2 separate regions of the Homo sapiens genome follow, and region 1 is linked to region 2. The links come from fine-mapping of genetic effects on plasma protein levels. Region 2 holds a variant in brackets. A gene starts in the other region. All regions are shown on their reverse strands.

Region 1 (4,000 bases), not on the chromosome of region 2:
TGGCAGAAATCAAAGGGCCCAACAGGGTTGATTCCTTCTGAGGGCTGTGAGGGAGAATCTGCTCCATCCCTCTCTCCTAGCTTCCAGTGTTTTCTGGTAATCTTTGCCATTCCTTGGCTTGTAGAAGCTTCACCCTGATCTCTGCCTTCATCTTTGTATGGCCTTCTCCCAGTGTGCCTGCCTGTCTCCAAATTTCCCATTTTTGTAATGACATCTGTCATCTTGGATTAGGGCCCATCCTAGCTGCCCTAGTGATCTCCTCTTAACTAATTATATCTGCAATGACCCTATTTTTAAATAAGATCACATTCTAAGGTACCGGGACTCCAACACAGGAACTGAGAGCAGGAAGGAGGACCACAGTCCAACCCCTTACACAGTCGAGCACTGGAGGTAAATGGTATTCTCGAGAGGAAAGCTGTTTGATGGCTCTTGGGATAGATTAGGTTATGCTCCAGCAACTGCCCATCTCAATTATCATCAGCTTAATACAACAAAAGTCTATTTCTCACTCACACTAAGACCCCTGTGAGCTGCAGGACTTTCTAGGACAACTGTCTTCCGTGCCATGATTCTTACACCCCAGATTGCTTTCATCTTCTGGTTCTACCAGTGGGGCAGGGAAGGGCTGGGGAGTTGCATCTCATAGTCCCCTTGCTGGAGAAACCTGGAAGTGACCCTTCATACCAGTGCTCATGTTTTACCAGTCAGCAGCAGGGCCCTAGGTCTCCATCCCTGCAAGGGGCTCTAGAGTGTAGGGAACAGATGGAATGTTCACAAGCACCACAGCCCCTGCCACAGTGACTTTTTTAGGACTGGTATCGCAGAGTGTTTACTTAAGGCGGTGGAAGCTAAATTCTTAGCATGTGCTGGAGAGCAATGAAAAAGATATTTACTTTATGAATTAAAGCTGGAGTCAGTGTCAGCCCGAAGGCTGAAGGAAAAAGAGCAACAGATCCAGGGAGCATTCACCTGCCCTGTCTCCAAACAGGTGAGGATGGGGAATAAAGTGAAGGCAGTGCTTTGGTGGGAACTTCAAGGATAGCCTCTGGCTTTTTCCAGGTTTAGAAGCTCATATGAGACAGGGGTGGAGGAAAAGAAGAAAGAAGAATAAGAAGAGAAAGTTGAGGCCCTGGCCCAAGTTAGTGGGAAGGGAAATCCACCCCCATTAAACTCTCTCCCTGGTGGACTGTGGGGTGCACACGTGAGGCCTGCACAGGTGCTGGAACATGGTAGAGGCCCAGGACATACTTCCTGTGAATGAATGATTGAGCGGCTGAATGAATGAGTACCACTAAAAGCCCTCTTTTCTATTCCCAAATGCCACATTGAGCAGAAGGGAGCAATCCTTGCTCAGCAATTGGTAGTCCCTTTGGGTGTGCAAATGAGTCCACAGCCTGCAACAGCAGACAGTCTCTGCCCCCCTTAGAGGCGATTGCAGGGAGGTGGCTGACCGTTGATCACACCCAGAGCTGGTTATGGGAATTTACTCCATGGAAAGACTGCAAAACTGCCTGAAATGTGTTTTGGCATCAGCTACTGACACGTAAGGTTTCCCAATCCTCAACTCTGTCCTGCCAGCTGATGAGGGGAAGGAAAGGGATTACCTAGGGGTATGGGCGACCAATCCTGAGTCCACCAACTGACCACGCCCATCCCCAGCCTTGTGCCTCACCTACCCCCAACCTCCCAGAGGGAGCAGCTATTTAAGGGGAGCAGGAGTGCAGAACAAACAAGACGGCCTGGGGATACAACTCTGGAGTCCTCTGAGAGGTAAAGAGCCAGCGAAGCTGATGTCCTGTCAAGAGCAGAATTCCTGCTCATTCGCTGCCTTTGAGAGTGGCTGTGTTGTGCATGCATGTGCATGATTTGATATGTATGAGAGGGTGTGTGTGCATGAGTGTGTTGAGTGAGTATGTGAGTGTAGTGTAAGAGAGGATGTTGGCACTATCAGGTAAGTACGAGAGTGTGTGTATGTGGGCATAGGTGTGTTAACATGTATGTGTTTGGGAACTTGTGTATGTGGAAGGGGTTAGAAGGCCTAGAAGAGAGAGGTTGATGCTTTCATTCTGGAGGAAAATACTGAGGCCGAGCCTCCATGGGTGCCTTGGAGACTCCAAGCCTTGAATCCAGTGTGGGGATATGCAAGCTATGTCTAGCGAGGGACACATCCTCTGACCTCAGGAACCTCCCAGGTAGTTGGGAGGAACCTGGTTCCAACCTCCCAAGAACTCTCAGTCTGATGAGGTACAGGGGAGGTCTCATTAGTGTATCATGGGGTTCTCCACAGGTCTGAGGGCCTGATGTGTGTGAAACCATTCTGCAGAGCTGGGAACGGGTCAGGAGGTGGTTGTGTGTGTGTGTGTGTGTGTGTGTGTGCATTGCTGGAGGGCACTCCTTGTGTGCTCTGAGTGTGACAGAGGAAGTCACCCTGGACTTAGGTTGGATGGGAGAGCATGTCTGTGTGTCTCAGAGCCACCAAGGAGGAGCAGGGGAGCGACGGCCGGGGCAGAAGTTGAGACCACCCAGCAGAGGAGCTAGGCCAGTCCATCTGCATTTGTCACCCAAGAACTCTTACCATGAAGACCCTCCTACTGTTGGCAGTGATCATGATCTTTGGTAAGAGCTGACCCTGACCTCTGAGCATGGGGGGACAGCCCCAGAAGGGAAGCACTCTTGTCCCTTAGTTTTCTCTCCCATTGCAGTGATCCTCTCTCAGGGGGAAAAAAGAAGCCATTTGGGAGGAAGGAGAGTAGCAGAGAGGGGCAGAGAGGGAGGGCGCAGAACCCCATGCCCCATCACCAGACAACTCCCAAATTTCCTTCCAGGCCTACTGCAGGCCCATGGGAATTTGGTGAATTTCCACAGAATGATCAAGTTGACGACAGGAAAGGAAGCCGCACTCAGTTATGGCTTCTACGGCTGCCACTGTGGCGTGGGTGGCAGAGGATCCCCCAAGGATGCAACGGATCGGTGAGGCCACCTATCCCTCCCTACCCTCCTAGACTCTGGCCCAGGCAGGGCTGGGAGCTGCAAAGACAGTGCCGGTTCCTGATGGGCGCAGAGGTCTCAGGATGGCCTGGCTGGAAAAGCAGCCGGCATGTTGGAACTTCTGCTCTAGACTGTTGCAAAGTCACTGGGTCTCTGCCCAGGGTCCAAGGGGGTGAGACCACAGGCACCAGGCCTCCTGGAGCTGTGGGACAAGAGCCCCAACAGGGTGTCTCCTCACAGCTGCTGTGTCACTCATGACTGTTGCTACAAACGTCTGGAGAAACGTGGATGTGGCACCAAATTTCTGAGCTACAAGTTTAGCAACTCGGGGAGCAGAATCACCTGTGGTAAGAGTCCTACCTCACCATCGAGTGGCCCTCATTTGTTTAGACAGTGCTGGGGACTGTGCTGGGCACCAAAGATAGACACAGAGGGACACAGTTCCTGCTTCAGGAAGCTCACGGTTGAGTGGGAAGCCAGGAAAGTGAAAATCCAATGTAGTAAAGACTCCAGTGGGAAGTAAACAAACAGATAAGGCATTAACACAGCCTGAGGCTTGAGGAAGGCTCCTGGAAGGGGTGACCCCTAAGCTGAGTCTGAAAGGCTGTGCAGAGAGTCAGGGAAGAGGAGGGAGCATTCCCAGAAGAGGACACAGCATGGTCAAAGGCACTAAAGGGCACTGTAAGCCATTCTGTACTGCCCAGCAGAAACATGAGGAAGAGGAGCAGTGCTGAGCCATGATGCTGGAGACATAGGAAGGAGCTAGGTCAATCCGGCCCTCCAGGCCGGGCTGTATTTAGGTTTTGCCCTAAAGCAATAGGATGCTATTAAGCAAAGGAGCTACAGGGTCAGATTTGCATTTTAGATGACTCACTGTGGGGACAGGGTCGATGGAGACAAGTGGAAGGGGGGCAGAGAAAGCTATTGCCATCATGCAGGCAAGAGGGAGTAACATCTTGACATAAAACAATGGAGGTCAGGATGGGAAAGGTGGAGAAAAAATCAAGAT
Region 2 (4,526 bases):
AGCCTCCTGAGTAGCCAGGACTACACGTGCAAGCCACCACACCTCGTTAATTTTTGTATTTTTTGTAGAGACAGGGTTTTGGCATGTTTCCCAGGCTGGTCTTGAATTCCTGGGCTCAAGCAATCTGCCTGCCTTGGCCTCCCCAAATGCTGGGATTACAGGTGTGAGTCACTGCACCAGCCTAAATTTATTTATTCTTAAAAAATTTCCTCCTAAAACATTTTATAAGAATTTACATATGAGGCTGGACATGGTGGCTCATGCCTGTAATCCCAGCACTTTGGGAGGTTGAGGCAGGCAGATTACTTGAGGTCAGGAGTTTGAGACCAGCCTGGCCAACATAGTGAAACCCTGTCTCTACAAAAGTACAAAAGTTAGCTGGGCATGGGGGTATGCACCTGTAACCCCAGCTGCTTGGGAGGCCAAGGCAGGAGAATTGCATGAACCCAGGAGGCGAAGGTTGCAGTGAGCCGAGATTGCGCCACTGCACTCCAGCCTGGCGACAGAGCAAGACTCCGTCTCAAAAAAAAAATTAGCCAAGTGTGTTGGTGCACACCTATGGTTCCAGCTACTCATGAGGCTGAAGTAGGTAGATCACTTGAGTTCAGGAGGTCAAGGTTGCATGAACCATCGTTCTGCTACTGCACTCCAGCCTGGTGACAAAGCAAGATACTGTTTCAAAAAATAAATTAATTAATTAAAAAGAAAAGGAAAAAAAAAAAACCCAGCTGGTGTTGGGTTGTCTTGCATAGCATTCAGTTCATTCATGTTCAAACAGGGCATGAAGCCTACACTTTGCATGGTAATGATAAAAAGGTATATCTGGCCAGGCGCAGTGACTCACTTCTGTAATCCCAGCACTTTGGGAGGCCAAGGGGGGGTGGATCACGAGGTCAGAAGTTCGAGAACAGCCTGGCCAGCATGGCAAAACCCTGTCTCTACTAGAAATACAAAATTAGCTGGGCGTGGTGGCGTATGCCTCTCTAATCCCGGCTACTTGGGAGGCTGAGGCAGGAGAATCGCTTGAACCCGGGAGGAAGAGATTGCAGTGAGCCGAGATCGTGCCGCTGCACTCTAGCCTGGGTGACAGAGCAAGACTCCATCTCAGGGAAAAAAAAAAAAAAGTACATCCAATACCTATTAATACACATAAATAAATAATCATTTAGAAACAACTATTTAGTAACGTACTACTCATTTTTTACAGATGTCATATGGTAGAGAGATTCAGTGAAAGTAAAGACAGTAGTCAGTGTGGAGAAACATTTAGCCTCATTCGAGATAGTATTGTGAACAACAGCATTTGTCCTGGAGAAGATCCATGTCAAAGCGCTGAGTGTGAAGAAGTCATAATGGGTCATTTATCCCTTAATAGCCACATCAGAGTTGATTCTGGACACAAACCACATGAGTATCAGGAATATGGAGAGAAGCCACATACACATAAACAACGTGGGAAAGCCTTCAGTTACCATCACTCCTTTCAGTCGCGTGGAAGGCCTCACACTGGAAAGAAACGCTATGAGTGTAAGGAATGTGGAAAAACCTTCAGTTCTCGTAGAAACCTTCGAAGACACATGGTAGTGCAAGGTGGAAATAGACCTTATAAATGTAAGTTGTGTGGGAAAGCTTTTTTTTGGCCCAGTTTATTACGTATGCATGAAAGAACTCACACTGGAGAGAAACCGTATGAATGTAAGCAGTGTTCTAAAGCCTTTCCTTTTTACAGTTCCTATCGAAGACATGAGAGAATGCACACTGGGGAGAAACCGTATGAATGTAAGCAGTGTTCTAAAGCCTTGCCTGATTCCAGTTCCTATATAAGACATGAAAGAACTCACACTGGAGAGAAACCATATACATGTAAACAGTGTGGGAAAGCCTTCAGTGTTTCCAGTTCCCTTCGAAGACATGAAACCACTCACAGTGCAGAGAAACCCTATGAGTGTAAGCAATGCGGGAAAACATTTCATCATCTTGGAAGCTTTCAGATACACATGAAAAGGCACACTGGAGATCGACCTCATAAATGTAAGATATGTGGGAAAGGCTTTGATCGTCCCAGTTTAGTT[C/T]GATATCATGAACGAATTCACACTGGAGAGAAACCCTATGAATGCAAGCAGTGTGGGAAAACGTTATCTCATAGCTCAAGCTTTCGAAGACACATGATAATGCACACTGGAGGTGGACCTCATAAATGCAAGATATGTGGGAAAGCTTTTGTTTATCCTAGTGTATGTCAAAGACACGAAAAGTCTCACAGTGGAGAGAAACCCTATGAATGCAAGCAGTGTGGGAAAGCGTTATCTCATAGCTCAAGCTTTCGAAGACATATGGTAATGCATACGGGAGATGGGCCGAATAAATGCAAGGTATGTGGGAAAGCCTTTGTTTATCCCAGTGTATGTCAAAGACATGAAAAGACTCACTGGAGAGAAACAATATGAATGTAAACTATTATAAAGCCTTCTATATTTCCAGTTCCCTTTGATATCATGAATAAACTTACACTGGACAGAAACCCTATAAATGTAAATGTGGGAAAGCCTTTCATAATTTTTATTCCTTTCAAAATCATGAAATATCTCACACTGGAGAGATGCTGTATGATATAAGGAATGTGGGAAAGTGATCGATTTTTTTTTAACACCATTGTCAACATAAAACAACTCACAGAGCAGAAAAACTCTGTGAGTGTAAAATATGTAGGGAAGCCTTCAGTCATTTTGGTAACTTAAAAGTACATGAGGCTGGGCACAGTGGCTCACGCCTGTAATCCCAGCACTTAGGGTGGGCAAATTGCTTGACCTCAGGAATTTGAGGCCTGCCTGGGCAAAATGGTGAAACCATGTCTCTACAAAAAATAGAAAAAGTAGCAGGTGTGGTGGTATGCCCCTGTAGTCCCAGCTACTTGGGAGGCTGAGGTGGGAAGATCTCTTGAGCCCAAGGGGTGGGGGTTGCAGTGAGCCAAGATGCACTGCACCCCAGCCTGGGCGACAGAGCCAGACCCTGTCTCAAAAAAAAAAAAAAAGTACATGAAAGGATTCACTCTGGAGAGAAGTCATATGAATGTAAGAAATGTAGAAAAGCATTGAGTTCTCTCAGGTCCTTGCATAGACATAAAAGGACTCACTGGAGAGATACTCTATAAATGTGTGAAATGTAGGGAAGTATTCTTTAATGTTATTTCATTTCAGATAGAAATAATTCTCATTGGAGATAAACCCTATGAATGTAAACACATAGTAAAGCCTTAATTTTAAGCCTCAGTTTCTTTCAAATACAGTTATCCCCTAATATTTGCAGGAGCGTGGTTCTACCACCCCCTGGGCATACATAAATCGACACATGCCAAGTCCTTTTTTAAAAATGACATATTTGGTACAAAATTACCCGGATGTGATGGCACATGCCTGTAATCCCAGCTACTCAGGAGGCTGAGGCAGGATAATCACTTGAATCCGGGAGGCGGAGGTTGCGGTGAGCCAAGATCGCGCCACTGCACTCCAGCCTGGGCAGCAAGAGCAAAACAACCTCTGTCACACACACAAAAAAAAAAAAAAAGGAAAGAAAGAAAAGACATATTTGGGTTAGACACAGTTGCTCACCTCTGTAATCCTAGCACCTTAGGAGCCCAAGACAGGTGGATCACTTGAGCCCAGGAGTTAGAGGCCAGCCTGGGTAATGTGGCAAAACCCTGTCTCTACAGAAGATACACAAATTAGCCAGGTGTGGTGACATGTACCTGTAGTCCCAGCTACTAGGGAAGCTGAGGTGGGAGGATCGCTTGAGCCTGGGAGGTTGAGGTTGCGGTGAGTCAAAATCACATCACTGCATTCTAGCATGGGCAACAGAATGAGACCCTGTCTCAAAAAAATAATAACAATAAAAAATATTTGCATGTAACCTACCCACATCCTCCTGTATACTCTAAATCATCTGTAGATTAGTTAAAATACATCATGCATCATAGAAGCTATGTAAATAGTTGTTATTATATTGTTTAGTGAATCATGATATGAGAAAGACCCTACACATATTCAGTACAGACCCACCCACATAATACATGTCACCTAGAGCATTATAAATCTTTTCTTTCAACACTCATAGATTGCTTTTGTTTAATGACCTGAAAATGTGTTAACATTCACCCAACAAAAGTGTAATGATGATTATTGCAATATCGTGCCTAATGTTGTGATGTGTTGAGTCAGCTAGATGTGTGACACCACAGATAAGCAGTGAGACCTCAGGCTAACTCGAATCTTGACAGGATGTCAACATGATCAACTATATTGGAAGAAACAGATTCTGACTGCAGATACTGAATTTTTGGAGCAGTCTAAATAATACTAATGTCAGAATCTGTTCAATTTGAGGACTGAAGATCTTTAAGCATTGAAGGCTGTCTTCATATTTGCAGATATTTAATTAGAAACATTGTAGGAAGCTAGTTTTTTTTTTTTTAAACTTTGCAACGTTTGTGAGCATGTAATCTCTGGGGTGACATGGAGGCTTTGTTCCAT

Alleles and levels. Alleles are on the strand shown, and positions count from the first base shown. The strength of an association depends on the size of the effect and on how common the allele is.
For the plasma level of the protein whose gene starts at base 1,735 in region 1, T is the low allele of the variant in region 2 and C is the other (weak association).

Evidence for each region. PIP is the posterior inclusion probability: the model's chance that the variant is causal. The UK Biobank Pharma Proteomics Project read protein levels with antibody pairs (Olink). The fine-mapping took linkage between variants from a reference panel, not from the people measured, so its PIPs are less certain.
Region 1: PLA2G2A starts here. The variant in region 2 is fine-mapped to the plasma level of the PLA2G2A protein (UK Biobank, PIP above 0.99).

What each region holds. Positions count from the first base shown.
Region 1 is chr1:19,977,353-19,981,352 of GRCh38, reverse strand. It overlaps PLA2G2A (phospholipase A2 group IIA), which reads left to right and starts at 1,735. Exons shown (of 5, transcript NM_001395463.1): 1 at 1,735-1,773; 2 at 2,474-2,619; 3 at 2,829-2,973; 4 at 3,232-3,338. The coding sequence starts at 2,580. RefSeq lists an enhancer at 2,592-3,091.
Region 2 is chr19:12,316,515-12,321,040 of GRCh38, reverse strand. It overlaps ZNF563 (zinc finger protein 563), which reads left to right. Exons shown (of 4, transcript NM_145276.3): 4 at 1,208-3,564. The coding sequence ends at 2,447. Among named protein-coding and RNA genes, the nearest start is that of ZNF563, 15 kb to the left of the region's middle. The variant C/T (reference allele first, on the strand shown) is at 2,073.